Linked DNA regions of Homo sapiens: all the other regions are reported to be linked to region 1. Evidence: microRNA targets listed by miRTarBase, many of them from high-throughput screens and not tested one by one. Region 1 holds a microRNA gene; each other region holds the end of a gene's coding sequence.
The links. The annotated mature microRNA hsa-miR-186-5p reads CAAAGAAUUCUCCUUUUGGGCU and lies in region 1 at 2,042-2,063, opposite strand. An mRNA with a match to its seed (bases 2 to 7 or 8) in the 3' UTR can be bound and repressed. Matches are read on the target gene's strand: a 7mer-m8 pairs with bases 2 to 8, a 7mer-A1 pairs with bases 2 to 7 and ends in A, and an 8mer does both.

Region 1 (6,340 bases):
TATATTCATGCAGCTAGTATGAATAAGTCAATATCAACCTGGGTAAAGTAGTGGTGTTCCGTAGGGGTTGGCCCTGGGCTCAGGGTTGTTTAGTGTTTTCACCAATCACCTGGCTTATGGAATAGAGAACATGTTCATTAAGTTTAGATGACAACAAACTAGGGGGATTATATGTGGCTAAGATAAAAATTTGCAGAAGTGGTAAGAAAGCAACAGAATGAATTCCACTCAAAAACAGAGTAATTTTTTTTACAAAGAAACAAATGCAGAGAAACAAGACTGTGTGAAATCTTAACATCTAAACTCCAAAATGTGAAGAAGCAAAACTAATCATTCTGTACAAGTAGGAATCATGAGATAATCCTACCACTGAACCCAGCAATTAATAGACTTTACATAATCTTTATTTTCACAAGCTAATAAAATATGAAAAATTTGCAAAGACTACAAATAAAGCCATTAAAATGACTATATAATTGGGAACAAAGAGAAAATTAATGAAACTGAGTAATTAGCCTGTTGCAGAAAAGGCTGACAGATGACAGTTGCATTCTTCCAATATTAAAAGTGTCAGTACAGATAAAGTAACCTAATATAGGCCTTTCTCAAAAAAGATTTGGACTGCAAAATGAAAAATGTATTAGCTACAAGGAATAATTTCCTTATAGACAAAGGGCATGAAGCAATTTGCTGTGGAAATGCATTTACACATATTTAAATGAGGACAGATTCCCAATGATCTGAAAGTTAATTTTTTATTAGATGCTCTAGAATTCTTGACTATTAGTATTTAAAGAAGCCTAAGTATAAAAGTCAACTCATAAATTACTTCGACATACAGCTTCTGAATTGCAATCTCAAAAGACAGAAATAACCGAGAGTTGGCTATAAAAATTATAAATGGAACTAAAAATTTAAACAATAAAATGATCAAAGAATGGTTTGATCTACAATTCTAAACAACCTGATCAAAGTACAAAGGATAAGCAAAGTAATGTTTTTTTGAAGTTCAAAGTTGAAAAGTAGAAAGTCGGAACACAAGAGATAATAAAAATCTAACCCTTGACTAGGAAAGTTTACTTTATCTATTAAACACACTTAAGAACACCCATTCTTATTTCTACAGAAACCCAAACCTTTCGGGTGACCGTGATCTTGTTCGTCTTTTTTTGCGATCACCAGATGAAGAAGATCTAGAACGACTTCTCTTTCTGTTCCTCTCAGGAGAAGATGATGAACTTGAATAAGATCTTTTTCGTGGGGAAGAAGAGCCCCTGTGGGACCTGGAGCTGGATCTTCATTGATTGAGAAACAAATCAAACATTTCATTAAAAGAAGAAATAAGGAAGATTATTTAGTTATCAGATAGCTCCAAAAATAAACAGGATTTATAACAACTATGAAAATTTTATAAGGAAGAATACTTACTGCTTATTCAACAGAAGACTTCTGGATCAACCATGAAAACATTCTACTTAAACATTTTAATTTTGTCTCTTTAAAATTCTATCATGTGTAATTAAAACCCTGCTTACTATATCAAAATAGAATTTAAACTTTTTTTAAGGCTTTTCAAAGTATACACAAATATTATAGTATTATAAAATCAGCAGATAACTGCATTAACAGGACTTTACGTTTAGGAACTACATCCTTCCATTTGAGGATTAAAATATGTATCTTATATACCACTTCCTGAGGAAAATAAACATAATTCCATGTGGAATTATTCAACTCATTAAACTGTTATGGAAAAACCAGGTATATGGCACAGCAACAAAAGACTAGTAACTGTACTTAACTGCTAAATATTCAAGAAGAAATAAAAACTAACTTTAAGATGATTTATATTTACAATACTATTTTTATGAAAACCCACTACTTATGAAATATGAAGTGTTGACATTCACATGCTTCAGGTAGAAGTAAATGTGCAAATGTTTAAATACAAATTTTTTTTCTTCACTTGTATATTTTGGTTGAAGGAATTTAGCTCAAACTTCCCAAAAAATTCACCTTTGGGCTTAAAATAAAACCAGAAAGCCCAAAAGGAGAATTCTTTGGAAAGTTACAAGCAATGAAAAAATGTTTGGGAAGAATATGATGGGTGTTCTGTAAACCTTAATTATAATGGTTCCCAAAGGGAATACCAGAACTTAAGGATTTTTACCTATAAAGCGCTTAAATATTGTTACTAAATAATGGTAACAATAAAAAATAATTTGCTCTCTACTTCTATTTTTTTTTTTTTTTTTGAGACAGGATCTTGCTCTGTTCCCCAGGCTGTGGTGCAGTAGCATAAGCATGGCTCACTGCACCCTTAATCTCCAGGGCTCCAGTGATCCTTCCACCTCAGCCTATAAGAACACACCACCATGCCTGGCTGGTTGTTTTAATTTTTATTTTTAGTAGACGAGGTCTCACTATATTGCCCAGGCTGGTCTTGAACTCCTGGGCTCAAGCAGCCCGCCCACCTTGGCCTCCCAAGGTATTGGGATTACAGGCGTGAGCCACTGAGCCTGGCCTTGTTATCTATTTCTTATTGGCTTATAATGCAAGTGTGCACAACATTCTTTTCTCCTTAACATGATTATACTGTGGCAGCCCTTTAATGCTAAATTTGATTCAAAGCAGCAAATACTTTTACCAAAACAGCCACAGTTAGACTTCAATATGAATTTCCACAAATATGGAATTTCATTTTCTTATTTATTTTTTAGATGCCTTTAGGTCATAATAAATTAACTTAAAAACAAAGAGAGCATATTTTGACTAAACAAAGAAAAATTTCCTGCAAGAGCATCTTTCAAATTATGTTTCCCTCTACAGATGTGACTACATGCAACCTGAAACTTTAGAACACTGTTTACTACTTAAGACCACATCCTATCTCAACTAACCGACTATACTTCCTGATTTAGTTTTGAGTGTTTTGTGCTCTATAAATAATAGCGTGTGTAAAATTAGAAAGGAAAATGTATATACAGTACTCTAGTAACTTTATCTGATATAAATGGCAAATTTGTTTCTGAAAATATTGAAACAACTGCCGTGCAAAACAGGACCTGTTTTGAGGCAGGGTTATTTTTCTTCCTTTTAATAATGAAGAAAATTTTTCTTTTTATTTACATATGTAATTTTATTTGAACTACTATTAATTTTTTTTTTTTTTGAGACACTCCTCTGTCACCCAGGCTGGATTACAGTGCTGTGATCAAGGTTCACTACAACCTTGAACTCCTGGCCTCAAGTGATCCTCCCACCTCAGCTTCCCAAAGTGCTGGGATTATAGGCATGAATCACTGTGCCTGGCCATATATAATCTTAATATACTAGAGATGTGGCGATAAGACTTGGCTTCATCTTCCTACTTCATAACATCTTAGTGCCAAAATAATAAACGCTGCATATTGCAAAATAGCCACCTGATTTCAATCATGGGAATGTCTTGGCACACTGCTGGCAATGGAAACATTTCATGGTGAGAAAATTAAGCTGAGGCAAGTGCATTAGTTTTCTAATGCTAAAATAAAATCGACAAGTAGAAGCAAAATAAGGGGAAAAAAAGCAGCAACACCTTCTGCAGCCTTTAAATATTTTTCTCTCTGCTTTACAGAGAGATGCTACCTCATTCACCTTGATTTCGACCCACGAGATCTCGAACGTTCTCTGGAACTGGAACGAGATCTTGACTGCGAACTGGAAGAACTTCTTGAACGGGACCTGGAACAACATGGAACGATTTTTTTTTTCCAGGACCATTTAATTGAGCTTTGTGATATGAACACTGAAAGAAAGATATGTATTAGAGTTCATTTTCATATAAAAAGATAACTATACAAGATATATACTTTCAAAACATAGTATTTTAAATTAGATAAGATTTAGTAACAAAAGGTAATTAAAAAAATATCACTTTCCAGGTGATTAAATTACCCTAAAGCCACTCAACTATAAAACAAAACATTATCACTTTATTACAAAAACAATGAATACTTTGTTTACAAGTAACTAGAAGCTACCCAGAATACATCCAAGAAAACAGAATGTTGCGATTTATACTTAATTTCTCTAAAATGTCTCCATCATTTTCCTTTATAAATCCCCTTCTATTTTTGTTTCTAGTTAGTACAAAGTTTTGAATGTTGGCATGTGTGTATTTCATCCCTATATTTTTCTGTTTACTCAATGCTTAGAGAATTAAAGGGAAAATGTATAATTCTGTCATTGTTAGGTAATTATATTATTGGAAAATATGACACAAGGGAGACATGGTTCGTACAAATTTTAAAACTCACAAAATTCATTAATCTAATTTACAACTATAATTTGTCCCTTATAATAATACCCTGTAGAAAAAGATCACTATATTTTTACCAAAAAATTACTAGTTATAGCCCCACTTTGTTAAGCTTTCAGGCTTTGTAGTGCTCAATTAACATATATCTAATTGTTATACACTAATATCTAGTATTTTATTCCTAAATATGATTAAAATTCATTGCCCATGCCATCACTTAACTGTGATTAAGGTTTTTCAAGAGGACACTGTTAAATTTAAATCACTGCTTTCACTCACCTAAAATTTTATTTTTATTGTTAACTATAAAATCAGAGATTACATATTTTACATCAACAAACAATATTCAAGTACACCAAAAGAGTTTTAGTTTACGCCTGGACTTCTCAAAATTATGAGCATGAAGTCAACAGAACTAATATGGCTGAATTTGCTCCGTTATTCACAATACTGATATCAAAGCAAACTATTAAAAACATTATGTAATAAGCAATGATTTAATGCCTAGAAAATTTCTGTGCTAGCCTTTAACATCTTGAATGAAAATACAGATCTCCCCTTTACTTAATTTCTATATGTAAGCTATCTCTTTAGATTAATTAAATATAAGTGTATATAAAAATTTAATTCAGTTTTTAAGTCTATTTTAGTCAAAAGCATGAGGCTAAAATAGGTTAAGGAAGTTTCATGCTAAGACTTTACTTTTCTAAAAATACTGGACAACAACTGTATGGTACTAAGCTGAAAAATTATTTTAAAAGTTGATTTGAATTAAATTTTTAAAATAAAAAGGAAAGTTTATTTCGTCAAGAAAAACAAAATTTATAAATAAAAAAGTTAGATACTGACATTTTGACTGGTGTTACCCTTGACCTGTACCCGTTTACCTGGACCTAGACCTTGAACTTGAGGGGGAGGATGAGCGTGATGAAGATCGTGAATGTGAAGATCGAGACTTTGAGCGACTTCGTCTATTAGATTTCTTTTTATTACTATCTTCTTCTTCACTGGCATCAAGATTATATTTTGAGAGATCAGCGTCATCTTCATCCTCATCCTAACAAAAATTCAATTATAATTAGACATTTAGATATTAGTGTTACCTACCAGGAAAGATAAAACAGTTAGGTGTACTGAGCACCTCCATATGCATATATCACAGGTATCTCAGCAAATTAATTCTGAATTCTAAAATTCACCTACTAAACTCATCTCAAATAGAGACTTGACAACTTTGTCTCAGGTATTGCACAGACATAAACCTGGAGGCCATACACACTTTTTCTGTCACACTTATGCATCACCCAAGAATTTTCAAGTCCACCTCCTTAAAAGTCCTTGAAATCACCATTTTTAGTCTTAGACACTCTGTTCCTTATTCTCTAGCATATTATAGTAACCTCTTAGCTGGTCTCCTCAAATCTGAAGATCCATTCTGCCTCTCTAGTATCTCAATATACTGACAGTCATCACTCTGAAACACAGGACAGATAAACACATCTCACTTTTTTCTTAAAAACTTCAAAACTGGCTTATTATTTCTTTAGTTGCATTCCAAGACCTCTTATGATCAGGCTCTAAGGTACCCTTAACATGGCATAAAACTTACACTCTGGCCTGACAGAACAAGTATCACCAGACCTGAAATGTGTGCTGTCCCCCTCATCTCATTCTCCCCTCTGCTCTAACTATACTGGCCTATGTATGGTATTTTTGAAGGCTGCTGGCTTATCTCCTATTTAGGGAACCCGTATTTGCTGTTCTCTGCCTAAATGTGCTCTCACCTCGGCTCTTATTGCTGGCTCCTTCCTATCATTCAAGTTTCAGCTCAAACTTCACCTCCTTAGACATTATCCATCGGCAAAACCAAAGTTGCTTTTAAACTGTTATCACATCATGTGTCTTCATAACGTTACTGCTATCAAAATTACCTATTTATATATTTCCTCCTCTAGAACTGTGTAAGAGAAAACTGGTTCTGTTTCGGTCACCACTGTATCTCCAGAACAGTAGTGTTCCAAGTACAAATAGTACTTGGCA
Region 2 (6,340 bases), not on the chromosome of region 1:
AACCTGACGTATTCCCAAGTCAACATACCAGTATACCAATAGGATGTGAATAATGTGTGTGTTGAGTTTAAAACCATAGCAGTTTTGCTCTGGCAAGTAATGAAAGCGTTCTCGCTTCCTGAGTGTGAGCTCCAGCAGACTGCAGAGTGGCCAGTCCACAGTTGTAGCCTGACTTCAGTGAGTTCTGATGTGTGCTTTTTGCAAATACATGTTCTCAGAACAGTGAGATCATCCAGCAGTGGCCTGGACTGCACTCACATAAAAATCATGAGACAGCCATGGCTACTTGTTTCTGTAATACATGCATGTGTGTTTTTTAAAACCTATGATAGGCCTCTGATTCTGCAGCTGCAACTTTTATGGAATGTTTTCCTTCTCCACATCTCATGTGATGCTCTTATTACAGGACACAGCATTGTTGGTTTTGCCATGTACTATTTTACCTATGACCCGTGGATTGGCAAGTTATTGTATCTTGAGGACTTCTTCGTGATGAGTGATTATAGAGGTACGATTGAGTTCGGAGCAGAGGGTCTGAAGAGAGTTCAGAGTTATAAATGCTTACAATGACTTTTTAAATTGTACTCTTTCTTTTTAGGCTTTGGCATAGGATCAGAAATTCTGAAGAATCTAAGCCAGGTATGTCTTAGTTTTTGGTTTCCAAATTTGTAAGTTTACTGGATTATTTTAATGATGGAATAAAAATTGGGTCTTGAGAGCAGGCTGAAATGTCACTGAGTGTGTGTTTTACTCTCTCATAATAGGTTGCAATGAGGTGTCGCTGCAGCAGCATGCACTTCTTGGTAGCAGAATGGAATGAACCATCCATCAACTTCTATAAAAGAAGAGGTGCTTCTGATCTGTCCAGTGAAGAGGGTTGGAGACTGTTCAAGATCGACAAGGAGTACTTGCTAAAAATGGCAACAGAGGAGTGAGGAGTGCTGCTGTAGATGACAACCTCCATTCTATTTTAGAATAAATTCCCAACTTCTCTTGCTTTCTATGCTGTTTGTAGTGAAATAATAGAATGAGCACCCATTCCAAAGCTTTATTACCAGTGGCGTTGTTGCATGTTTGAAATGAGGTCTGTTTAAAGTGGCAATCTCAGATGCAGTTTGGAGAGTCAGATCTTTCTCCTTGAATATCTTTCGATAAACAACAAGGTGGTGTGATCTTAATATATTTGAAAAAAACTTCATTCTCGTGAGTCATTTAAATGTGTACAATGTACACACTGGTACTTAGAGTTTCTGTTTGATTCTTTTTTAATAAACTACTCTTTGATTTAATTGTTTGGTGTAAGCATTTTTACTAGTTCTTTATTTCTTACACATCTTTCTTGCTGTTGAAGACAAAAATGACCCGCAAACATCATTGGATGAACAGAATTGCTCAAAATAGTTTTTAACCCAATTTAAAGTTTTTATGGTCATGTGTTATGTTAGTATTAACAAAGTCTGGATAGAAGCCAGTTTACCAGTTGGCTATCAAGGTTTTATACATAGCAACATGTAAAACATGACTTTTTTTTTTTTTTGAGACACAGTCTCATTCTGTTGCTCAGGCTGGAGCGCAGTAGTACGATCTCAGCTCACTGCAACGTCTGCCTCCCGGGTTCAAGCAATTCTCATGCCTCAGCCTCCTGAATAGCTGGGACTATAGGCATGTGCCACCGTACCCAGCTGATTTTTGTATTTTTAGTAAAGACGGGGCTTTGCCATGTTGGCCACGCTGGTCTTGAACTCCTGACCTCAAGTGATCCACCCACCTCAGCCTACCGAAGTGCTGGGATGACAAGGGTCAGCCACAGCACCCGGCAAAACGGCTTTTTATGTTGATGACACTATACACTGCATCTGATGGATTTTTTTTTTTTTTTTTTTGAGACAGTCTCGCTTTGTCACCCAGCCTGGGCAGTGTGGAGTGCAGTGGCACGATCTCGGCTCACTGCAAGCTCCTCCTCCTGGGTTCACACCATTCTCCTGCCTCAGCCTCCTGAATAGCTGGGACTACAGGCGCCCGCCACCATGCCCGGCTAATTTTTTGTATTTTTTAGTAGAGACGGGGTTTCACTGTGTTAGCCAGGATGGTCTCGATCTCTTGACCTCATAATCCGCCTGCCTCGGCCTCCCAAAGTGCTGGGATTACAGGCATGAGCCACTGCGCCTGGCCTGACGGAATTTTCAAGAGCTGAAAACCAAGTTAGAAACTGAGGCCCACAATGAATAAACCCATCATTACACAAGTAAAATGTGGAGATGGGATTATGAAACATTGAAAATCAAGAAAAAACATCTTGTCCCTAAAAACCTCATGCCACATAAGATTTTTTTTTTTAACAGAGCCAAGGTCTCATTCAATGAATAAACTCATCATTACACAAGTAAAATGTGGAGGTGGGATTATGAAACACTGAAAATCAAGAAAGAACATCTTGTCCCCCAAAACCTCATGCCACACAAGACTTTTTTTTTTTTTTTTTTTTTGAGGAAGAGTCTTGCTCTGTCACCCAGGCTGGAGTGCGGTGGCACGATCTTGGCTCACTGCAAGCTCCGCCTCCCGGGTTCACGCCATTCCCCTGCCTCAGCCTCCCGAGTAGCTGGGACTACAGGCACCCGCCACCACGCCTGGCTAATTTTTTTTTTTTTTTTTTTTTTTTTAGAGGAGACGGGGTTTCACCGTGTTAGCCAGGATGGTCTTGATCTCCTGACCTCGTGATCCGCCTGCCTCGGCCTCCCAAAGTGCTGGGATTACAGGCGTGAGCCACCGTGCCCAGCCAAGACTTTTTTTTTTTTTAATAGAGCCAAGGTCTTACTCTTTCGCCCAGGCTGCAGTGCAGTGGTGTGATCACAGCTCACTGCAGCCTTATCCTCCCGGGTTCAAGCAATTTTCCCACCTCAGCCTCCCAAAAGTAACTGGGACTACAGCTGCATGCCACCATGCCCAGCTAATTTTTTTTATTTTTAGTAGAGACAGGGTCTTGCTAAGTTGCCCAGGCTGGTCTCAGGTCCTCCTGCCTTGGCCTCCCAAAGTGTTGGGATTACAGGTGTGAGCCATGGCACCTGACCAAGATAATTTTGAAGGTAAAGCGGATCACTGAAATTAGGGTCTCCTATGTGTACTGAAAAAGTACACATTTTTTTACAGGAAATTTGCAAACAGAAAAGCTCCAGTTGGACACAAGCATAAATCAGATAAATTAACATCTCATTTGGAGGGTGAATTTGTAGTCCTGTGTTAATACAACGGATTTTTAGAGCAGAGAAACAATAGCCCTTAAAACTGCCAGGGGGTAAAGAAGTAAACAAGTGCTTTCTTAAGGACTGAAATGAAAAAGAAAAAGACCATTTCCCCCTAGATATGTGAACTCCTTTCATTATTCATGACATTGGCCCAAATTCCTAAACCGACTAATTTCCACAATAATGAAAACAGTAGTTGATAAGAACCACTGTAGACTAATGTCCAAGATAAATGTTTTCCAAAAGAAGTCAGATACCTGAAAACAATGCTCTGTATCTCTCTGAGTTCTCCAGCAAATCAGTACTGAGCTCCTCAGTCAAAGGTAATGTTGTCCTGCAAGCCTTTGTATCAGTGTCTGTTATGGCTTCCTAGATTAGAAGGCAGCCACATATAAAAATGTAGCCCTGTATTATATTTAATACAGGAGGGCTTTGGGATTTATTGGTGGCTCAGAGAGCATGCCATGAAAATGGGCTTACAGAGTCAATGATCAACCAGGGGCCCTATTAGGCAGGCAAGTAACTACATAAGAGAAACTCTGGCAAAAATGAAAGGGTAACTAAACACAAAGAGCCTTGTGGAGAAGTAAGATATTTTGCAAATTGTGTTTTGGAAAGTGAGCCTCTTAGAGGAAAACAACTACATGCTGACTGTGGTTAAATATAGGAATAAATTAAATTAACCACCAAGTTACAATATAACTCTTTGTTTCCTCATCTTTCTTAGAACTTAGCCTTAAAGGCCCAGTGTTGTGAAGATGAAGGCTTTTATGAAGTTTTGTATCCACTTTAAAGAAGCCCCTTAAGTGTAAATTTTATTTATTTTAATTTTTATTTGTTTTTAGTTGTTTTCTTTTTTTTTTTTTTCTTGAGACAGGTTCTCACTCCATTGCCCAGGCTGGAGTGCAGTGGTGCAATCACAATTTACTGCAACCTCGACCTTCTGGGCTCCAGCAATCCTCCCACCTCAGCATCCCAAGTAGCTAGACCACAGGAACGCACCACCACGCCCAGCTTTTCTTTTTTTTTTTTTTAATTTTTTGTAGAGATGAGGTCTTGCTACATCACCCAGGCTGGTCTCCAACTCCTGGCCTCAAATGATCCTCCCCCCTCAGCCTCCCAAAGAGCTGGGATTACAGGCATGAGCCTGCGCCCAGCCAGCTGTAAAATTTAGAAGCTGAAACGCCAACTGGGAGCAGTGGCTCACGCCTGTAATCCCAACACTTTGGGAGGCCAAGGCGGGCAGATCACGAGGTCAGGAGTTCGAGACCAGCATGGCCAATATAGTGAAACCCTGTCTCTACTAAAAATACAAAAAATTAGCCCGGGGTGGTGGCAGGCCCCTGTAATCCCAGCTACTCAGGAGGCTGAGGCAGGAGAATCACTTGAACCCAGGAGGTGGAGGTTGCAGTTAGCAGAGATTGCACCATTGCACTCCAGCCTGGGCAACAGTGTGAGACTCTGTCTCAAAAAAAAAAAAAAAAAGAAGAAGCTGAAACACCACAGCATTAGCCCACTACTAGCTCAACTCAATTACAAAGAGACCTCTTTAAAAACTGAACTATAAAGCAAATCTATAAAGTTTGAAGTCACCAGGCAAGTAAGAAAACATGTTACGGGGAAATTATCTGAAAAGAAACAACAAACAATGATAAACATGGAAAACCAGAGTCCAAGATCATCAACCGCTTAGATTCCACACAGTAGTCTTTCTAGGGAAAGAAAGTAGAGTCTTTTTTACAGAAATGCTGAAGAAGCAATTCAGAAGAAACCTAATGATTTATTAATGCCTTCGACCCACTCTACCCCTTCCTGTGAGTCTCCTTTCCACTGGGGACCCAGCAGGGCCTAGAATGGATGATGCTCATCACGGTTCACTGAAGCAGGTGGCTGCTCACCAGCAACTGATGGAACTGCCAGGCCCTGGGAAACCAGCCACCTTCTCCTGCTAGGAGTGAAGCAACTTCCTCACTGACTGTGACAGCCATGGCCTTCCTCTGAGTCTGCAGGTGACCATGTCTGCTCCTAGAATTCTATTTCCTTGACTGGTGCCATGTTTGTTTGTTTGTTTGTTTGTTTTGAGACAGAGTTTCGCTTTTGTTGCTCAGGCTGGAGTGCAGTGGCGCGATCTCGGCTCACGTGAACCCGGGAGGTGGAGGTTGCAGTGAGCCGCGATCACGCCACTGCATTCCAGCCTGAGCGACAGGGCAAGATTACGTCTCAAAAAAAAAAAAAAAAAAGAAAAAGAAAAAAACTAGTGATAAGAGCTAACATTTATTAAGCACTAATCAGGAACCAGGCTTTCAGTTTAGCACTTTGTATACATTATTATCTCATCTAATTCTCACAACGACTGTATGAGATTGGTACAATTATAAGTTTCTTTTTACAATGAGAAACTAAACCTAAGAGAAGTTAAGTTGCCCAAGGCCACACAACTAGACCTGGGAATCAAGCTCCAAACCAATTTCTCAAACCCCTGGGGCTTCCTGCCATAGTCTCACAGGACCTCACAGTTTCTATAAGAATGATTGAATATGGTGTTTCTGTGTGATTCTACTGCAAAGAATAATCAGTATAAGCATTTTCTGGATAATCAAAAGCAGTGATTCTCAGTATGGGCTACACATTAGAATGGCCTAGAAAGCACTGTAAAAATACTAATGCCCCATCCTGAGAGAGATTTCTTTTTTTTTTTTTTTTGAGATGGAGTCTCACTCTGTCCCCCAGGCTGGAGTGTAGTGGCGTGATCTTGGCTCACTGCAAGCTCCGCCTCCCGGGTTCACGCCATTCTCCTGCCTCAGCCTCCCGAGTAGCTGGGACTACAGGCGCCCACCACCACACCTGGCTAATTTTTTGTATTTTTAGTAGAGACGAGGTTTCACCGTGTTAGCCAGGATGGTCTTGATCTCCTGACCTCGTGATCCGCCCGTCTCGGCCTCCCAAAGTGCTGAGATTACAGGCATGAGCCACCGCGCCCGGCCCAAGAGATTTCTAATTTACTTCTGTTTTTATGCATATACCAAAGTGATGCCAGGGGCCCAGTGCAGCAGCTCACGCCTGTCATCCCAGCACTTTGGGAGGCCGAGACAGATAGA
Region 3 (6,340 bases), not on the chromosome of region 1:
CCTCAAGTAATCCGCCCACCTGGGCCTCCCAAAGTGCTGGGATTATAGGCATGAGCCACCGTGCCCAGCCCTGGGTGCCTTTTAAATCAGACTGTACTCACCCAGGAAGAGCCAGCCACAGGCCCTGCCCCAGCTGCCCACCCTGCTCCTCAGCCACGCCCCTTTCCATTGTGACGGGCAGCATGGCCACTGAGCCAGGGTGCAGTGGCAGCGGCTGTGTAGTTGGGGGTGGCGACATGAGCCGTGCGAGCTAGCCTCCCAGCTGGTCCCCGGGATCTCAGGTTACGTCGCACCCCCCGCAGTGCCGCCGGTCTGTGGGTGTCCAGATCGACCAGCAGAGGCAGATCCTGGACTTGGACCTGGGCCTGCAGTTCCTACAGCAGCAGTCCTTGGAGTTGCTGGCCAAGCTCCACTAGAAGATCGAGCATCTGAAGTGGGAGAACAAGGGTGAGCCCAGCCACAGGGCCCTAGGCCTGCCCTGCCTCCCCAAGCGCCTGAACACGGCGGCGGCCCGCAGAGCAGAAACGCAGCACATGAACTCCAGCACCTGCCTGGGCTCAGGGAGGACACAGGGCAGCAAGCCCACGCTAGGTCCTGCCATGCTGAGCTCTTCCCCTGCCCCAGGACGGAGACCCGCCTAGGCCCGGGGCGGTGCCCTCCTTGTCTGCCTGTCCCGCCGGGGGCAGCATCATTTCAAACGCTGACCCTGCCAGCCCTCCCCTCTCCAGGCAGGGTCAGGTACACATCTGTTAAAAACTTCGTAGAAGGAAAACATGCCCAGTGCCGGTGCACAACTGAGTGAATTTTCTCCAACTAAACATGCCGGATCAGGAGCAGGCATGCCCCCGGCTTCGCCTGTGCCCACACTGTCCTCGGGCTGGGCCTTCCTAACTGCACCCTTAGCAGCTCCTCACCCCCACTGCCCACCAGAGCAGAAAGAGGGCCCGCCAGGATGTGGCTCCGCTCCTCCCTCCCTGCTTCAGCAGAGGCTCCAGCGAGGGCACCAGTGCCTGCAGCCTCATCTCCCTCCCCGCTCCCTGGTGCTGCCTTACCTAGGTGCTAAGTATTCCATCACCAGGCATCTGTTATGTCAGGATCCCCCTTCCCCATGTCTTCTTGAGCCTCTCCCCAGTCCCTGATGCCCACAGGATCATGACACTGACCATGCTCATCCATGGCCAGGGGCTCCCAGAGTTCACCCCTGTACCCCTGGGGCCCAGGTCCTGCCTGGCACCATGGGCGTCTTGTAGTCAGATGGGAGGATGAGGCTGATGTGCTGGGTGGGCTCTGCCTAGGGAACAGGCAGGGTCATTCCTGCCCTCACATGCCCACAGCAAAGGTGTGGTGGAAAGCGGGACCTGTGGGGCAGGGCCCAGTCAGCCAGTGGCGAGCCAGGACTCTCGGGGTTCAGCAGGGGGTAGTGGACAGCCCAAGCTGCTTCTCTTAGAATGGCTGTGGCTTCACAAGTGATGAGAAGAGCATGCGCTTGATTTCAGATCCCCATTACAAGCTCATAATGAATGAGTCACAGGAGAAAGGTGAGACTTGGGCCCTTTCGTGCCTGATGGGAAGCTCCTGCCACCCCGGGGAGCCCCTCCAGACTGTCCTTGCCCACCTGGCTGCACTGGCCTCTGTATGCCAACCCAGTGAGGACAGGTTCTGAGGGACCTGGACAGATGCTGCTGCCCCTAGCCATGGCTGGACGATGTTATACAGCCAAGCACAGCACGTGCTGCTCTCAGGAAGCCCAAGGGCTGTGGTCAGTGCAGTGGTGATGGTGGGCACAGGGTGCTTCCCAGACCTTCCCTCCTCCAAGCAGAGCTCCTGAAATGGGAGGGGACTCTGGGACAGCCCCTACCCTGCTGGGTCTTTGCCTCAGATTGCTGCTGTGGCTGGGCCTAGGATCTCCAGCCTTGTGGCTCTGATTCCTGATACGCTGGGAGAAGGGCTCCGGGCACACCCCATCCAGGGATTCCTTCCTGCCATCTCAGCAACAACTGTGGGGATGGGGGTGGGGGGAGTAACCAGAGTCCTGCTTCCCTGCCACTTGTCCAAGGCACTTCCCCATCCCAATGGTGGCCCCCACCCAGCCCAGGATTCTGGTTGAGTTCTTGAGCTCACTCTATTACCTTTGGGGCCGGGGCTGACATCAGGAGGACATCTGACTGGTGAATGGGACCAGCCTGGGAACATCCCAGCTGGGGCATTGTCCAGGGCTCTCCCTTCTAGGGAGACACAGAGAATGGGATTGAGTGAAGGCCCTTCCCTAGCTGCGGTGGCAACTCCAGTGAGCTGTTCTGGGCAAAGTGTGGCCCTGCAGTGCTGGGGACCCTGACAGGACACGGGAAGAGGCCATGCTCTCCCTCCGGACCTGCTGCTCCATGGGTCCCAAGCCCTCCCGCTTTCTGGATGGCCCCTCAGGAAACAACCTTTCCGGGGCCTCTGCTCCCTTGGGCGCGCGGTGGGTCTGGGGCTGCCTCAGTGGAGTGTGGGTAGAGCAGGGAGGACACAGGCCTGCAGGCAGACGGAGGGCTTCTCCCTCAGGCAGGTGTGCGGGTGGCAACTTCCAGCCTGTCAACTCCACCTCGAATTAAATGGTGTCAGGTGAGCAGGCTGGTGTCCTCCATGTGCTCACAGGGGCAAGTGCCCCACAGGGACCCCAGCCTGGGTGGTCACTAGAGGTGCTGACCAGGGAGCTGAAAGTCCTCTGCTGGGCCAACCTCAAGGATTTGGGGGTGAACGGGCAGCTGAAGGGAGCCCTGTAAGCTGAAACCACCAGGAGGGGCCTAGGGTGGGGTGGGCAGGACTGGGGGCCAGTCACAGGGGCTGTCAACGCAGGGCAGCAAGGCCTCATGGCAGGCACCCCAAGCCAGCACAGCAAGCGGTCAGAAGGGGCCTCCTTGGGTGGCCTTCTAGGGGGAAGGACGTACACTGGCTGCCTGGCAGAGGCCCTGCTTGGCCCACGTCCCCCTCCACAAGCAGACAGGATACAGGAGGGATGGCACTGCCCACGGAGCCCTGGGCTCATGGCATCTTCTGCAGAGTGAGCGGGGAGTGGCTCGAGACCAGGCATCTTCCTTGGCCCCAACCCTGGCCCCTATTGTTCCTGTGATGAGCCCAGGCGTGCCATGGGCGTTGTCCTTGCAGAGGAAACCCATGCAGGCTTAGTCCCAGGCCTCGCATGCAGTTTTATTTTACCCAAAACAGAGCCAGCTTCCACTATATTGACTGTTCTAGAATGTTCACAGGCACCACCCATGGGCTTCATCCTCAGAACCTCATTTATTCCTCCTAGAACCCTCCAAGGCAGGCTTCCCTTTACAGAGGAGGCAACTGAGGCAGGGGCTTCTTGGGCACACACAGCTGATCCTGAAAGACTTGGGCAGCGGCTGTTGGTGCCTGCAGTGACTGGCCCTGTCGGGTCTGACCTGCAGCCAACTCTCAAGGAAAGGACAGGCCCCAGCCGGTTCCTTCAAGAAACAAGACTCTAAAGCACTGGGGTACTCTAAGGTACCCCAGAAGGCAGACCTTGAGGAGGAGCCACTGCTTCACAACAGCAAGCTGGACAAAGTTCCTGGGGTGCAAGGGCAGTCCAAGTAAGGTTTGCCTGCACCCTAAGGGCCCCAGGACCACATTTACTAGGCTCCCACACTGCAGTCAGCAAACTGCTGTGTCCCTTGCTCTAGGATCCTGTCTCCAGGGCTCATGAAAGCAGACAATGGCCACGCTCTGTCCACACTCTGTCCATTGGGTGGGCGCTGTCTTCCTCCCCTCCCCTGGAGTCCTGCAGATTACCTGTGCTGACCTGAGCCCACAAGAGGGGGCAGCAACAGCCCCTAAACCACTTTCTCAGAGAAAAGAAAACAAAGTAATCTTTTTACCAAGAAAAGTGAGTTGTGTTCCTGGGCCTGATTAGAATGGAGCTGGTCAGTGCCTGCTGCCCCTGGCCACAGCCTGCCTTTGGAGGGGACTAGGAGAGCAGGACCAGGCTCTGGTACTCCCCGAGTTGCCGGGCTGCCCTGAGACATTGCAGAGTGCACATTTTGAGCGGTGCAACCAGCAGGACAGGCTCCTGCATCTCTGCACGTCCCCTGAGACCAGCCCTGAAGCAAGAAGCCCCACTGGGTATAGGGTCCTGACTAAGGGCAGCCTGGCAGCTAGCTGGTCACCCACTGAAGCACATCTGACCCTCAGGGCACCTTCAGAGGGGAGGAAGGGACAGACCCCAGTCCGAGACCCCCATCTGGCACCCAGAGCACTCTGGTCAGTGGGAGAAGGGAGCCAGGCCCTGTTCCCCACACTGGCCTGGGCACTGCCTGGGGGAAGTATGCTGCCTGGATGCTCAGACCCACCTGGGCAGGTCATTTCTGGCTACTGTAATGACTTTCAGAGACAGGGAAGCAGAGGCCTCTAACGCCAGGGCTTTCTGTTGGGTGGGCAGCCAGCACAGGGACAGGCAGATGATGGCACTCCCCGATGATCCTGTCCCCACACCTGCGAAAGCCCACCACACTTCAGCAGTGTAAGTGGTCATCCACCAGCTGTGGAATACCAACCTTCTGCAGGCCCAAGAGGTGAGGCCCTGGGTGGTGGGGATGGCCCTGGGCAGCCTGGTGCCACCGCAGGCCCCACCACACCCCTGCCCCTGCCTTTCAGCTGCAGCACCTCAAGTCCCTCCTGGAAGGGAGGCAGAGGCCCCAGGCAGCCCCAAGGCTGACAGCATCCTGACAGGACAGCGAGCCCAGATTCATGGAGAAGGGGACACAGTGATGAACAACTGACAAACACAGGAATAATAAATTTATTATAATCACAGATGGTGGGGTAGTGCACATAAAAAGGGGGGACCTCTTCTCACCAGAGGGTGCTGGCCGGTGCCCAGAGTGGCAGGCAACATAGGGAGGCGCTCCCTGCATGGCCCGGCCCGCTGCCAGGCCCGCTGTCTCTGGGTGCTCAGTGTGTGGTGCTCTGAGGACACGGGTCCTGAGGGCCTTGCTCTTCATCCTTCACAGTGGGGACACGGCCCTCATGCCAGCGGCACAGGGGTGCCGGCAGCAGGATCCCTGACGCCCCTGCTCCCTGGGTGCCCCACGGTGCTCAGCAGGAATGCCGTGAGGGCTGAGGCCCAGCTGGTGGCGGGGAGCCAGCAGCACCTATGGGCCAGCCCTCCCTCCAAAAGGCAGCCTGTGCCCTGGACTTGCAGGCTTCCTCGGGGGGTGCTCCACCTGCCCAAAGCAGCATAGCCTGAACCCAAAACTGTGACCAGAGAATCCCATGTGTGTTTTAAGGGTTTCCTATGTCCTCTGTGTTCTATAGGAACGAGTAGGGGTGCGTCTAGCACACACGAGACGCTCTAACAACACCCTGAGTGCACCCTCACGCTGCTGAGATGGACCTGGACCGTGGACAGGCCACGGTGAGAGCAGCCTGAGGATCGCATCTGGCTCCTGGGAGGAAGTCACATGGAGGGCCTTCTCTAAGAAGTCGGCCAACGCCCCCCAAGCAACCCGCTCCACTGCGCCTATCCCAGTTCTGTACAGGTGTGGGATTTCGTTTGGCAGGTCCCCAAGGCAGAAGATAAAAGCAGGAAAGCTAACCTAACCCCAGGCTCTCTAAGGAAGCCAACACCTAGAAGTGTCTGACAGGAGGCGTGTGTCCTTGGCCCCGATGAGGCTGCGGGCCATCCCTGCAGTCTTGGCTAGGCGGCTGAGAGGCAGGCCTGGTGGACGCTCTGGGCCCAGGTGTTGAGCAAGGCGGTGACCGAGTGCTTGTCCGGGAGCTGCAGCAGCCTGGAGGTCATGCAGCGGTGCACCGACTGGAGGAAGGGGTTGGCGTCTGCAACAGAGCAGTGGGCGTGAACCTAAGGCGGCCGGCGCTGCGCTCGCTCCTGGCACACCCGGCAGTGCTCTGGGAAGGGGTAGCCCCAGGCGCGGGCCGAAGCACCAGGAGGTGATGTGTCCTGCACGCTGCCCGGCCTTTGGGCTCTCCTCCCAGAGCCTCATCGTCAGTGAGAACCAAATCTGAACAGGATCTAGGGCTCTGCCTCTAACAACCTTGGGGACCCAGCCTGGCTCTACTGTGTGCCAGCTCTGCTGTGTGCCAGCTCTGCTGTGTGCCAGCTCTGGGCTCAGAGACTGCCCCCTGCCACCGTGGTTCTCTCTGGAGCCACAGCACCCAGATTGGGCCCTGTGTGCCCAAGCTACCAGTGGAACCTGGCAGCCCTGCCAAGGTAGTGGCCTCTGGGAAGCTAGTGGCCTCTGGGAAGAGCGGGGACTGTCCCTGAGCCATGGGCTTACTCACCCCTCACCCACTGAACACAACCACCCTGGACAGCTGACGT
Region 4 (6,340 bases), not on the chromosome of region 1:
TCCGCGCTGACTTCGGGTCCCCGGAGCCTGGGGCACGGCAGGGAGAAGACGACGGCGGAGAAGGCGACAGCGGAGAAGGAAGGCAGGCTGCAGGGGCGCCGTCGGCGCGGCGGGCCGGGATGCGGACGCCGGTGGTGATGACGCTGGGCATGGTGTTGGCGCCCTGCGGGCTCCTGCTCAACCTGACCGGCACCCTGGCGCCCGGCTGGCGGCTGGTGAAGGGCTTCCTGAACCAGCCAGTGGACGTGGAGTTGTACCAGGGCCTGTGGGACATGTGTCGCGAGCAGAGCAGCCGCGAGCGCGAGTGCGGCCAGACGGACCAGTGGGGCTACTTCGAGGCCCAGCCCGTGCTGGTGGCGCGGGCACTCATGGTCACCTCGCTGGCCGCCACGGTCCTGGGGCTTCTGCTGGCGTCGCTGGGCGTGCGCTGCTGGCAGGACGAGCCCAACTTCGTGCTGGCAGGGCTCTCGGGCGTCGTGCTCTTCGTCGCTGGCCTCCTCGGCCTCATCCCGGTGTCCTGGTACAACCACTTCTTGGGGGACCGCGACGTGCTGCCCGCCCCGGCCAGCCCGGTCACGGTGCAGGTCAGCTACAGCCTGGTCCTGGGCTACCTGGGCAGCTGCCTCCTGCTGCTGGGCGGCTTCTCGCTGGCGCTCAGCTTCGCGCCCTGGTGCGACGAGCGTTGTCGCCGCCGCCGCAAGGGACCCTCCGCCGGGCCTCGCCGCAGCAGCGTCAGCACCATCCAAGTGGAGTGGCCCGAGCCCGACCTGGCGCCCGCCATCAAGTACTACAGCGACGGCCAGCACCGACCGCCGCCTGCCCAGCACCGCAAGCCCAAGCCCAAGCCCAAGGTCGGCTTCCCCATGCCGCGGCCGCGGCCCAAGGCCTACACCAACTCGGTGGACGTCCTCGACGGGGAGGGGTGGGAGTCCCAGGACGCTCCCTCGTGCAGCACCCACCCCTGCGACAGCTCGCTGCCCTGCGACTCCGACCTCTAGACGCTTGTAGAGCCTGGGGGGCGCCGGGTGGCAAAGGACTCACCCCCGCACAGGCCCGCCTGGCTTCGAGTTGGAACCCGGACACTTGCCCCTCACTGGTGTGGATGGAAATCTGCCTTTCGTGGGACCAAACAGGACTCCTTGGACGATTAGTTCAGGTTGGGTTTGGTTTTCTTCTTAAAGAGTTTAGTTTTCCTCTCCAGAGGGATCAGGGTCCTCTTAGGGAGTGACGGGCTTTTCATATATTTTTGCTGAAGAATATATGGAAAGGGTGGCATTTGCGTCACGTGGACCAGGGACAGTGCTGAAATCAGCAGTGCTCAGAAACAATTTAACATGTTGAAACGACAATATTCTAAAATACTGATGAATCTTGCATCAATATAATTATTGGGTTTTTTTTCTTTTTCCTGCTGTATAACTCCTTGCCATGCAAACTCTCAAGAGGCCAATATATTCCTGGCCATGTTTGAATGAGCCTCTTAAAATAAACTTAGAGCCATGCAAATGCCAGCAGCTTAATGGATTTCATGGAATGAAATACCGTGATTAACTCATAGCTACATATCATTGCATAAATGGGATTTATCTTTTTTCTCACTTATTTTTGCGGTGAAAGTCGAGGGCATGCAAGAGTTTCTCTTCCAGAAGCCAAGAGGAGAACAAAGGTCCTAATGCTGTACTATTCCACCCTTTGGACGCCTCATCCAGGACGCAGAGGACTCTAGGTTTAACATTTTGTACAAAATGGAACCTGTTAATCATATTAAAGCACATATGTATATATCTTTTATTTATAAATAAAATTTTAAAACAATAGTTTCAGTATAGCCACAAAAGCTCTTTTGTCTTCAGTACAACGTTTGGGAGTTTAAACATTCATTACTAACAATTTCCTGGCTGCCTCGGCACTTGTGTCTGAAATCTAGCACTCAAATCTTTGCACCTCTTAGCATAAGGTTACTAAAAAAAGCCAACGGGCCCCACTTAAGTCCCTGATTGCTTTGGTTTTAGGTTCATGCCATTTCTGTGCAAAGCCAAGTCTATTGCTGAGAAAACGAGAAGCACCAGTTTCCACTTGAGGTGAGACTGGAAATCTTTTCCTTTGTAGCAGTGGTGTTTAGAATCACAGGAAGGCAGCTATGTGTTCCATGAAGGGGACTGGGTCTCCAGCAGGGCTGGCTTCAATTCCAAGTGGTTGATTTAAGGGTACCTTTAACCGAACTGAATCTCTTCTTTAAAACCTGCCGTTCAGAGGTAGGAACATTCATTCAGTTCAGCAAGCACTGATAATAGCTATAGTGAGGCTAACTTAATAGCACATGCTGCCTGTTAGAGTGGAAGGGATGACAGAGATTCACTTCCCTTGCCATTTGGTACTGGAATCACTTCTTTCTCTCTTTCTGAAGCCAGGCTTTAACGTGTAGGCGGTATCACTTTGGAATCTCTTTCAAATGCAGATTCTGATTCAGTAGATCTGGAGTGAGGCCCTGAAAAGATTTCCTAACTGGCTTCCAGGAGATGCCAATGCTGCCGGCTCATGGACCACACTTGGAGTTGCAAGGCTTTCGCTGGGACTGTCTCACTCAAATTTCAATCCCAACTGGTGGCTCATATTCAGACCTTTGAGTGCCTGCTACCGAGATGCGCTTGGGGACTTGCTCGAGGGTACAGAGCCAAAAGGGAGAAAGTGCAACAGGGCTCTTTTCCACTAACACCTCCGAAGGCAGCAATTAGGGACCTGAGAAGTCAGCACCTAGCAGACACCGTACAGGTACTGGGCTCCTGGCAAATGGTGAGTCTGGGCTGCATCATAATTCTATCTCCAGGGAAGCTTTGGTAAAAACACACAAAACTTTTGTGTGTTTTGCTTTTCTCCCCATCCCAATGATTCTCCACTGCCTTATATGCAAAACATTTCCTGCCTGAGGATTAGGATTCGGTTGCTGGGAGTTAAAACTCTACTTTTCCCCTATCAAGAGAACGAAGCCAAAACTCCTCCTTTAAAAATACAAACTCCTTTTTGCTATAGAAATATTCAAGACAGCCTGTAATCCCAGTGCTTTGGGAGGCCAAGTGGAAGGAATGCTTTGAGGCCAGGAGTTCGAGACCAGCCTGGGCAACATAGCTAGACCCCATGTCTACAAAAAAATTTTTAAAAGTTAGTCAGGCATAGTGGCAACATGTCTAGAGTCCTAGCTACTTAGGAGGCTGAGGCAGCAGGATCACTTGAGCCCAGGAGTTCAAGGCAGTAGTGAACTAAAAGCACATCACTGCATTCCAGCCTGGGCAACAGAGCGAGACTGTCTCTTAAATTAAAAAAAAAAAAAAAAAAAAAAAAAAAAAAAAACGGGCATGATGGCTCATGCCTGTAACCCCAGCACTTTGGGAGGCCGAGGTGGGCCCATCACGAGGTCAGGAAATCGAGACCATCCTGGCTAACATGGTGAAACCCCGTCTCTACTAAAAATACAAAAAATTAGCCGGGCATGGTGGCGTGCGCCTGTAGTCCCAGCTACTCGGGAGGCTGAGGCAGGAGAATGGCGTGAACCCGGGAGGCGGAGCTTGCAGTGAACCGAGATGGTGCCACTGCACTCCAGCCTGGGTGACAGAGCGAGACTCTGTCTCAAAGAAAAAAAAAAAAAAAAGGTTCAGGAGAGCATGGAAAGAGAGTCCTGCATCAGTCTGGGATCCACGTTTGCCCTGCGGGTCATTCTCTGCCACAGCAAGTCTCAGGAGTTGCTGCTGTGGGCAAGAATTTATCCTAAACTTTTCCTAAACTTACCACTGACCAGCCCAGCAACTGCACCACAGAGAACACACTCAAAGCACTTCTGTCTTGTATCAAGCCCTCTGACCTACCAGACTCATGTTTAATCCTCCCAATCCCCAAAGGAAGTATAAGTCCCCATTGAATGGATGAAGTCTTTTCTAGATTACTCAAGTGATGCCAGGAGGACGGTGAGTTCTGTGAAGGTAAGGCAGAAACTGCTTTAACACATCCCTGCTCTACCCGTTCGCCAATCTGGCTCTTATCTGGACACACGCCCTCACCAAGGAGGGGTGTGGCTTTGAGCACACAGCTGGTTCTCCACCGTGGAGGCTGCGGGAGGTGCTGTCAGGGTGCTTTGGCAACCATCCTTCCCTTCATTGTGTAGATCGTTCACCCAGTATGTTTTTGAGCGTCTGACATTTTGCCAGCACATTTGTGGGCACCATGAAAAACAATACCATCCAGGCCCATTCTGTGTGGAACTTAAATAATCTCCTGTGATCATGTACAAATAAAATGAAAAAGATTAAGCCAGAAATCAAGGGATGGAGGAAGAAAGGTGTTTTTTGTTTTTGTTTTGTTTTTGGGAGACAGGGTCTCACTCTGTCACCCAGGCTAAAGTGCAGTGACATGATCAGGGCTCACTGCAGCCTCAACCTCCCAACCTCAGTGGATCCTCCAGCCTCAGCCTTCCAAGTAGCTGGGACCACAGATATGCATCACATCACCCAGCTAATTTTTTTTTTTTTTAAACAGACAGAATCTCACTATGTCACCCAGGCTGGTCTCGAACTCCTGAGCTCAAGTGATCCTCTCACCTTGGCCTCCCAAAGTGCTGGAATTAGAGGTGAAAGCTCCCACACCTGGCCAAAGGTGATATTTTAGGAAAAGTGGTCAAGAAGAAGGAGGTACTTGGGCAGAGAACTGAAAGAAGAGAGAGAGGAGCCTTTTAGGCAGAAGGAACAACTTCAAGTTTCCACTAGAGAAAATGTGAAAACAGGTGGGCGTCTCAGTCTTACTACCAGCTAGTTTTGCTTCTCTTTCTAGAATCGGGTGGTAAGGCCAAGAAGCAGCTGGTGGTACAACGGAGTAACCCTGAGTCAACCTTGTCATCTACTCTTTGCCAGGCTAACAGATTCTTTCAGAGGGAATACCATCTGGAACAAATTCACCCTGTCTTCTAGAATATTTCCATAAGCAGACAGGGAGGGTCTCTGGGGATTCTAGGAATTTAATCAACTTGAGCAATCAGCCTGTTTTGCAGCCTCGTGCCCTGCAGTCTGTTTCTTCCTAGACCCTGCGTGGTCACCCAGCAGGTTAAAGCAGCTCCTGACAGGCCCCAACAACTTTTAGATGAATTCGGTGAACTTTCCTCATGGCCATTCTATAGTCTCCACCCCAGGGGAAGAGCAGCTTCAGCAGCAACCACATGCGACCTATGTGCTGGCATGAGGACTCACTGCATTGGTGCCACTGGGACCCCTCCTCGGCATGCGACGCAGTCCCTCCTGTCTCCATTACCCCTTAAAACCCTCCTGTCACATTCCCTCTGGGAGACACTGCTTTGGAGAATAATCCCAGTGCCCCTCTTCCTTGTGCCAAGTAATAAAACTCCTATTGATCACACACCTGCGTTCTCAAGGAGCGTGGTTTGTTATTCATCGGACCAACAAACCCTGATTTTGGGGGGGTAACATTTCCAGAATCAAAAATAAGCAATTTCTTTTTTTTTTTTTTTTTTTTTTTGACAGGGTCTCCCTCTGTCACCCAGGCTGGAGTGTAGTGGCATGATCTTGGCTCACTGCAGCTTTAATCTCCCAGGTTCAAGCGATTCTCCCACCTCAGCCTCCCAAGTAGCTGGGACCACAAGCACACACCACCACGCCTGGCTAATTTTTTGCATTTTTTGTAGAGAGTGTGTTTCTCCATGTTGCCCAGACTGGTCTCGAACTCCTGAGCTCAGGAGATCCACCTGCCTCAGCCTCCCAAAATGCTGGGATTACAGGCGTGAGCCACCATGTAAGCAAAAAATAAGCAACTTCATGTGTGAATAGTCCTCCACTAAGCAGGACTGAACACATGAAAATGAGGTTTCATTTGTTCAAATCAAGGAAAATATAGACAGAGCTTAGCAGGGGGGACAGTGCTGACAAGGGGACTTGATTCTTCAGTGGCACATGGAGAGAATGGCTTAAGACTTGATTGAACCCATTTAACTCTTGTCCTACTGGTGGCCCAAGTTATACCAAGGCGCTGACAAGGTGAGCCAGCAGCCCCTCTTGTAAAGCAATGTGACCAATAAGCTGGGTTGAGAGCCTGGGAAGCCAGGAGATGCCTTTCACAGGTACCAAATGACTCTCCATTGTTTTGCATAGAGAAAGTGACATGGAGCCTGAGGCCACTGACACTTCTCCCCCACCACCATGTTTGCTATTCACAGTGGCTCCCAAAGAGCTGCTCTCACCACGGGGCTGAGGGAGGCTAGACAAGATCACTGCAATTTTTCTAGAACTTTGATGATACCTGTCTCCCAAGAGGGTAAGCCTTGCCCTTGCTGGGCTTCTGTTTC
Region 5 (6,340 bases), not on the chromosome of region 1:
GAGGCTCTTCACGCTGGGGAGAAGTCCTTCGAATGCAGGGCGTGCAGCAAAGTGTTCGTGAAGAGCTCCGACCTCCTCAAGCACCTACGCACCCACACCGGGGAGCGGCCCTACGAGTGCACCCAGTGCGGCAAGGCCTTCAGCCAGACGTCGCACTTGACGCAGCACCAGCGCATCCACAGCGGCGAGACGCCCTACGCGTGCCCCGTGTGCGGCAAGGCCTTCCGGCATAGCTCCTCGCTGGTGCGGCACCAGCGCATCCACACGGCCGAGAAGTCCTTCCGCTGCTCCGAGTGCGGCAAGGCCTTCAGCCACGGCTCCAACCTCAGCCAGCACCGCAAGATCCACGCGGGTGGGCGTCCTTATGCTTGCGCACAGTGTGGCCGCCGCTTCTGCCGCAACTCGCACCTGATCCAGCACGAGCGTACGCACACAGGCGAGAAGCCCTTCGTATGCGCGCTCTGCGGTGCTGCCTTCAGCCAGGGCTCCTCGCTCTTTTTGCACCAGCGCGTGCACACAGGCGAGAAGCCCTTCGCCTGCGCCCAGTGCGGCCGCTCCTTTAGCCGCAGCTCCAACCTCACCCAGCACCAGCTCCTGCACACGGGCGAGCGGCCCTTCCGCTGCGTGGACTGTGGCAAGGGTTTCGCCAAGGGCGCCGTGCTGCTCAGCCACCGGCGCATTCACACGGGCGAGAAGCCCTTCGTGTGCACGCAGTGTGGCCGCGCCTTCCGTGAGCGCCCTGCCCTCTTGCACCACCAGAGGATCCACACCACAGAGAAGACCAATGCCGCAGCACCAGACTGCACCCCGGGGCCAGGTTTCCTTCAGGGACATCATCGGAAGGTGCGCCGGGGAGGGAAGCCAAGCCCAGTCCTGAAGCCAGCGAAGGTCTGAGGTCACAGGTCGCAGCCCAACCCTTTCTTGGCCTTCTGTGAATCCCTTCCACAGCTAAAGGGTCCGAGTGCTCTTCAGATCCACGATGGGGAAAAGCTCTGTGCCTGAGAGTCAGGGACGAGGGAGACCCTTTGGCTGTGGTTCCATTTGCAGGTGGGGACAGGATTTGCCAGTTTAGTCATAGCTCACACCTCCATCCTCAAAGAGGTAACACTGCAGAAACATCAGAGGGAGGACATGTCAGCTGGAACTCTGGTGGGGCTGAGGCTGTAGTTGGGGCCATAGGACGCCGACAAAGGCAGCGCTGCATGGTGGTGCTACTTCATGTGTTATGAGAGTGGATGCTGAGGTGAGGGGGATGCGGACATGGGGTAGGATGACCTAGAGAAACTTATGATGTCTGCACACAAACTGGCCGCTAGACGGACGCTGAGGACATTTTCCCCCTGAGGCCTCTATTCAAGGCTTCCTGGGGGCCATCTCAGCAAACAGGAGACTACAGGGGACTGGGGATCAGGGTGTGGCCTGTGAGTGTCAGCCTCCTCCTCGGAAAAAGAAAAGCTTTGGGTCAACTCAGCATCATGTTTGCAGATGCTGACAGACGGGATCCTAATGAGAGTCAATGTGTGCTCACTGCCAGCTCCTGGGCTGTGCTCTGGTCAGCCAGGTGTGAGGGCCTGGCCTGGGGTCACACAGCTGACTCAGGAGAGGAATGCCCATGGTTCTCAGCATTGGAAGGACAAACCTAGGATGATGGCTTTCCAGTGGCACTCGTTCAGGTTTTCGTCCAAGTCTCAGCTTGGCCAAGGCCTGTCGCTCACTCATTTACAAAAGTCGATGTGAGGAGGAGCCTTTACACCTGTGGAGACAGTGATAGCTTTGGAGCAGATAAGGTGGAGCTGCTCATTTTTGCTGGATTTGGTGGCCGATCCCCGCCCCCACCCCCACCCCCTCCATCTCACCTTTCCCTTGTTATGCCTCCTCAATTGGAGGCTGGACAGAGAGCTGAATAGGAAGGACTTGCCATTACCTAAGGCCATGTGTGACAGCCTCCTGAGGACCTCCCCAACCCAGTGTGATGGGCCTGCATGGCAGAGACAAAAGGGTAGACTGGGGGTCATTTGCTTCCTGTGGCCTTAAGCCTACTAGGCCCCATCCTTACCTGAGACCTCACCTCCAAGAAATTAATGGTCTTTTCAATGGAGAAAAAAAAAGACTAGTATTTGCAACTTCAAATAGATGTAGTTTCCTTTACAGCCGTGTGGACCTCCACAGCACAGCCTCCTGTCTCTATTCCAGGGTATGATTCAGTTGTTTGTTTGTTTTTGAGACAGAGTCTCAAGGCAACTCTTCTTGCCCAGGCTGGAGTGCAATGGCACAATCTCGGCTCACCGCAACCTCCGTCTCCCAGGTTCAAGTGATTCTCCTGCCTCAGTCTTCTGAGTAGCTGGGATTACAGGCGCCCACCACCATGCCCGGCTAATTTTGTATTTTTAGTAGAGACAGGGTTTCTCCATGTTGGTCAGGCTGGTCTCGAACTCCCAACCTCAGGTGATCTGCCCATCTTGGCCTCCCAGAGTGCTGGGATTACAGGCGTGAGCCACTGCGTTTGTTTTTCATGAAGCGTCTCAGTCTGTCGCCCAGGCTGGAGTGCAGTGGAGCAACCTCGGCTCTGCCTCTTGGGTTCAAGCCATTCTCCTGCCTCAGCCCCTCCAGTAGCTGGGATTACAGGCTTGCACCACCATACCTGGCTAATTTTTGTATTTTTAGTAGAGACGGGGTTTCACCATGTTGGCTGGGCTGGTCTCAAACTCCTGACCTCAAGTGATCGGCCCATCTTGGCCTCCCAAAGTGGTGAGATTACAGGCGTGAGCCACTGCGCCTGCCTACATACCATGATTTTAAAGTTGCAGCTGTTTCCTATTGCTTGTAACTCAGTCTTGTCTTTTCAATGGTAACCAATTTCTGTTTCAAACTGAAAGGTTCATGAGGGTGAGTTCTTCTATTAGTCTGTTTTGTGTCACTATAAAGGAACACCTAAGGCTGGGTAATTTATAAAGAAAAGAGGATTAATTGGCTCATGGTTCTGCAGGATGTACAGCCATGGCACCAGCATCTGCATGGCTTCTGGTGGGACCTCAGGAAGCTTGCAATCATGATGGAACATGAAGGAAGAGCTGGCATATCACATGGCAAGACAGGAAGCAAGGCGGGGGGGAAGTGTCACACATTTTTTTTTTTTTTTTTGAGGAGTCTCGCTCTGTTGTCCAGGCTGGAGTGCAGTGGCACGATCTCGGCTCATTGCAACCTCCGCCTCCCGGGTTCACGCCATTCTCCTGCCTCAGCCTCCCGAGTAGCTGGGACTACAGGTGCCCGCCACCACGCCCAGCTAATTTTTAATATTTTTAGTAGAGACGGGGTTTCACCGTGTTAGCCAGGATGGTCTCGATCTCCTGACCTTGTGATCCGCCCGCCTTGGCCTCACAGCAGAGTGGTGGGATTATAGGCGTGAGCCACCGCGCCCGGCCCACTTTTTTTTTTTTTTTTCTGAAATGGAGTTTTGCTCTTGTTGCCCAGGCTGGGGTGCAATGGCACGATCTCAGCTCACTGCAACCTCTGCCTCCTGGGTTCAAGTGATTCTCCTGCCTCAGCCTCCTGAGTAGCTGGGATTACAGGTGTGCACCACCATGTCAGCTAATTTTTGTATAATATTTTTAGCAGAGACAGGGTTTTGCCATGTTGGCCAGGCTAGTCTCAAATTCCTGGCCTCAAGTGATCCACCCGCCTCAGCTTCCCAAAGTGTTGGGATTACAGGTGTCAGCCACCGCACCCAGCCCATCACACACTTTTAAACAACCAAATCTTTCATGAACTCAGAGCAAGAGCTCACTTCTCACCAAGGGGGATGGTGGCAAGCTATTCATGAGGAATCTGCCCCCATACTATAGTTTGGATGTTTGTCCCCTCCAAATCTCATGTTGAAATGTAATCCTCAATGTTGGAGATGGGGCCTGGTGAGAGGTGTTTGGGTCATGGGGGTGGATCGCTCTTGAATCTCTTGGTGCTGTCCTCAAGGTAGTGAGTTCTCACAAGATTTGGTTATTTAAAAGTCTGTGGCACCTCCTTCCTTTCTCTCTTGCTCCTGCTCTCACCAGGTGAGATGCCTCCTCCCCCTTTACCTTCTGCCATGATTGTAAGCTTCTTGAGAACCTAGCAAGAAGCAGATTCTGAAGCCATGCTCGTACAGCCCTCAGAACAGTGATCCAATTAAACCTCTCTTCTTTATAAATTACACAGCCTCAGGTATTTCTTTATAGTAATGCAGGAATGGCCTAATATACCTCATGATCCAACACCTCCCACTAGGCCCCATGTCCAACACTGGAGATCACATTTCAACATGAGATTTGGAGGAGACACACATCCAAACCATATCAGTTCTCTTGTCCCTGAGTGAAGAGGCACTTGCTCCCTCTAAACCCAATTCTAGGTGACTAGAGATTTATGAAGGTGTCGGGATGTTTGTTCATGATGCATAGTGGCCTCATAGGGTCTCCCTACTTCTTCTGCAAGAAGAACACCTTCAGGGGCTTTCAGCTCAGCCAGAAGATTCACATAAAGGTTGTTCATCTGGTACCTTGAGCACTCTGCCAACACAGGTGATCACAGATTCCAAGACACATAAAAGAGTGAATCACAACTCACTGGTGACTCATTGAGGAGTGATGCTCACAAAGCAACACACTTCGTCTAAATACACTGTACTAACCTTGGTCACTTTTGAAAAGGTATTTCTACAATTATTTGAAACTGCTCATGAAAACTGAGCTTTCCCTTAAGGAGCAACCCCCCCACCCTTCGAAACCTATGGAGATCCTATTTCCAAAAACTTAGGTAAATGGACCCAGGTCACTCGAGATGACCCTAAAATGCAGTGGCCAAAACGGAGATCTTTTGAAATTCCTAAAGTAATATATTTGTGTGCACAATAGGAAACTTAATATGTTTGTTCTAAAACCAGACAAATTGGATGGGAGGCCTACTTTCTGTTTGTGCAGGCTATACTCTGATAAGATATTTGAAAGGTTTTTTAAAAAGAGCTCTATAGGCCAGGCACAGTGGCTCATGCCTGTAATTCCAGCACTTTGGGAGGCCAAGGTGGGCGGATCACCTGAGGTTGGGAGTTCGAGACCAGCCTGACCAACATGGCGAAACCCCATCTCTACTGAAAAATACAAAAATTAGCCAGGCATGGTGGTGCGTGCCTGTAGTCCCAGCTACTTGGGAGGCTGAGGCAGGAGAATCACTTGAACCTGGGAGGCGGAGGTTGCAGTGAGCTATGAAACTATAGCAAACTCCAGCCTGGGCGACAGAGTGAGACTCCGTCACAAAAGTAAGTAAATAAAATACAATGAATTCTATGGTCAGATGTCAGCTTAATTAAAAGCTGATATTCAGGCTTTTTTTTTTTTTTTAAGAAAAAATACCTTTCTGCTTTTTCTCATTTGGAGCCTGTTTCTGGGAATTTTTTTTTTTTCTGTTGACTGAAACCCCTTTTTACATATGTTTAGTCCCTTTGTTTGCTTCTTTTCTTGTTAGTATGATGTAAAGTTTTATTGGCCTTCTGAAAAACTTAAAATCTCCCCAAATTGGCTTAGAGCTCTCCCATTTTCTTCTACTTTTTCTTCCTTTAGCTATCTTTGATACCACATAAAGAAATCTAGAGGAGTCTTCTAATATCTCTGAGACCCTTTGAGGAACACAGTAAAGTGTCACATACACCTTTTATGGAGTCTTCTGTCTTCCTCATGGAATCCTAAGTGTAGCAGGCAGTTTATCTTAGGTCTAAAGCTCTGATCTCTTTTACACTGAGTTCTCTGACCTTTTGGCTTGGGGGGTACCAAGGGTTACTTTGTTCTATGAAAGAACATGATCTTTGGGTGTGCACTGGCTGGCAAGTTACTGGCAAGGGCTGCAGTTTTGGCTGATAGCAGTTGTTTTCAGTGAGTGGTTATTACTGCAGGGTGTACTAATTCCTTTGCATGTTTAAATAAGAAAAGTATGGTTTGAACACTTGGAGACTTATAGAAACACTCATCACCAAGGGGGAAGAATCCTTTGGGAGATGGGCTGATCACAGATCACAGAGTGGGCTAATTGGTGCTGGGTGTCCCACCAGCATCAGGGAATGTCCATGCAGTGAGGTGCACTGTGGAAACACAGCCCTGTCCTGTGGTATTTCCATCTTGTGGGGTCCTCAAGATTCCATTTTAAAGTGGAATCCTTGATTTTATTTATTTATTTTTATTTTTTGAGATGGAGTCTCGCTCTGTTGCCCAGGCTGGAGTGCAGTGGCGTGATCTCAGCTCACTGCAAGGTCCACCTCCCGGGTTCACGCCATTCTCCTGCCTCAGCCTCCCGAGTAGCTGGGACTACAGGCGCCCGC

Region 2: the mRNA of SAT1 is a reported target of hsa-miR-186-5p. Seed matches in the 3' UTR shown: 7mer-m8 at 1,258-1,264.
Region 3: the mRNA of MED15 is a reported target of hsa-miR-186-5p. The part of its 3' UTR that is shown has no 7-base or 8-base seed match.
Region 4: the mRNA of CLDN23 is a reported target of hsa-miR-186-5p. The part of its 3' UTR that is shown has no 7-base or 8-base seed match.
Region 5: the mRNA of ZNF324B is a reported target of hsa-miR-186-5p. The part of its 3' UTR that is shown has no 7-base or 8-base seed match.

Annotation. Positions count from the first base shown.
Region 1 is chr1:71,065,640-71,071,979 of GRCh38, forward strand. MIR186 (microRNA 186) reads right to left here and starts at 2,077; the gene lies at 1,992-2,077. It overlaps ZRANB2 (zinc finger RANBP2-type containing 2), which reads right to left. Exons shown (of 10, transcript NM_203350.3): 7 at 5,188-5,357; 8 at 3,637-3,723; 9 at 1,137-1,295. It overlaps ZRANB2-AS1 (ZRANB2 antisense RNA 1), which reads left to right. Exons shown (of 3, transcript NR_038420.1): 3 at 1,127-1,545. RefSeq lists a silencer at 2,864-2,913.
Region 2 is chrX:23,784,922-23,791,261 of GRCh38, forward strand. It overlaps SAT1 (spermidine/spermine N1-acetyltransferase 1), which reads left to right. Exons shown (of 6, transcript NM_002970.4): 4 at 407-508; 5 at 599-639; 6 at 765-1,289. The coding sequence ends at 935. Among named protein-coding and RNA genes, the nearest start is that of SAT1, 4.9 kb to the left of the region's middle.
Region 3 is chr22:20,586,063-20,592,402 of GRCh38, reverse strand. It overlaps MED15 (mediator complex subunit 15), which reads right to left. Exons shown (of 18, transcript NM_001003891.3): 18 at 4,784-5,835. The coding sequence ends at 5,699. It overlaps LOC124905084 (a long non-coding RNA gene), which reads left to right and starts at 3,509. Exons shown (of 3, transcript XR_007068013.1): 1 at 3,509-3,596; 2 at 4,442-4,574; 3 at 4,657-4,815. It also overlaps the pseudogene CCDC74BP1.
Region 4 is chr8:8,702,280-8,708,619 of GRCh38, forward strand. It overlaps CLDN23 (claudin 23), which reads left to right. Exons shown (of 1, transcript NM_194284.3): 1 at 1-1,817. The coding sequence starts at 120. The coding sequence ends at 998. Among named protein-coding and RNA genes, the nearest start is that of CLDN23, 3.5 kb to the left of the region's middle. RefSeq lists a silencer at 1-10 and an enhancer at 1-451.
Region 5 is chr19:58,455,686-58,462,025 of GRCh38, forward strand. ZNF324B (zinc finger protein 324B) reads left to right here. Exons shown (of 4, transcript NM_207395.3): 4 at 1-2,148. The coding sequence ends at 894. Among named protein-coding and RNA genes, the nearest start is that of ZNF324B, 7.2 kb to the left of the region's middle.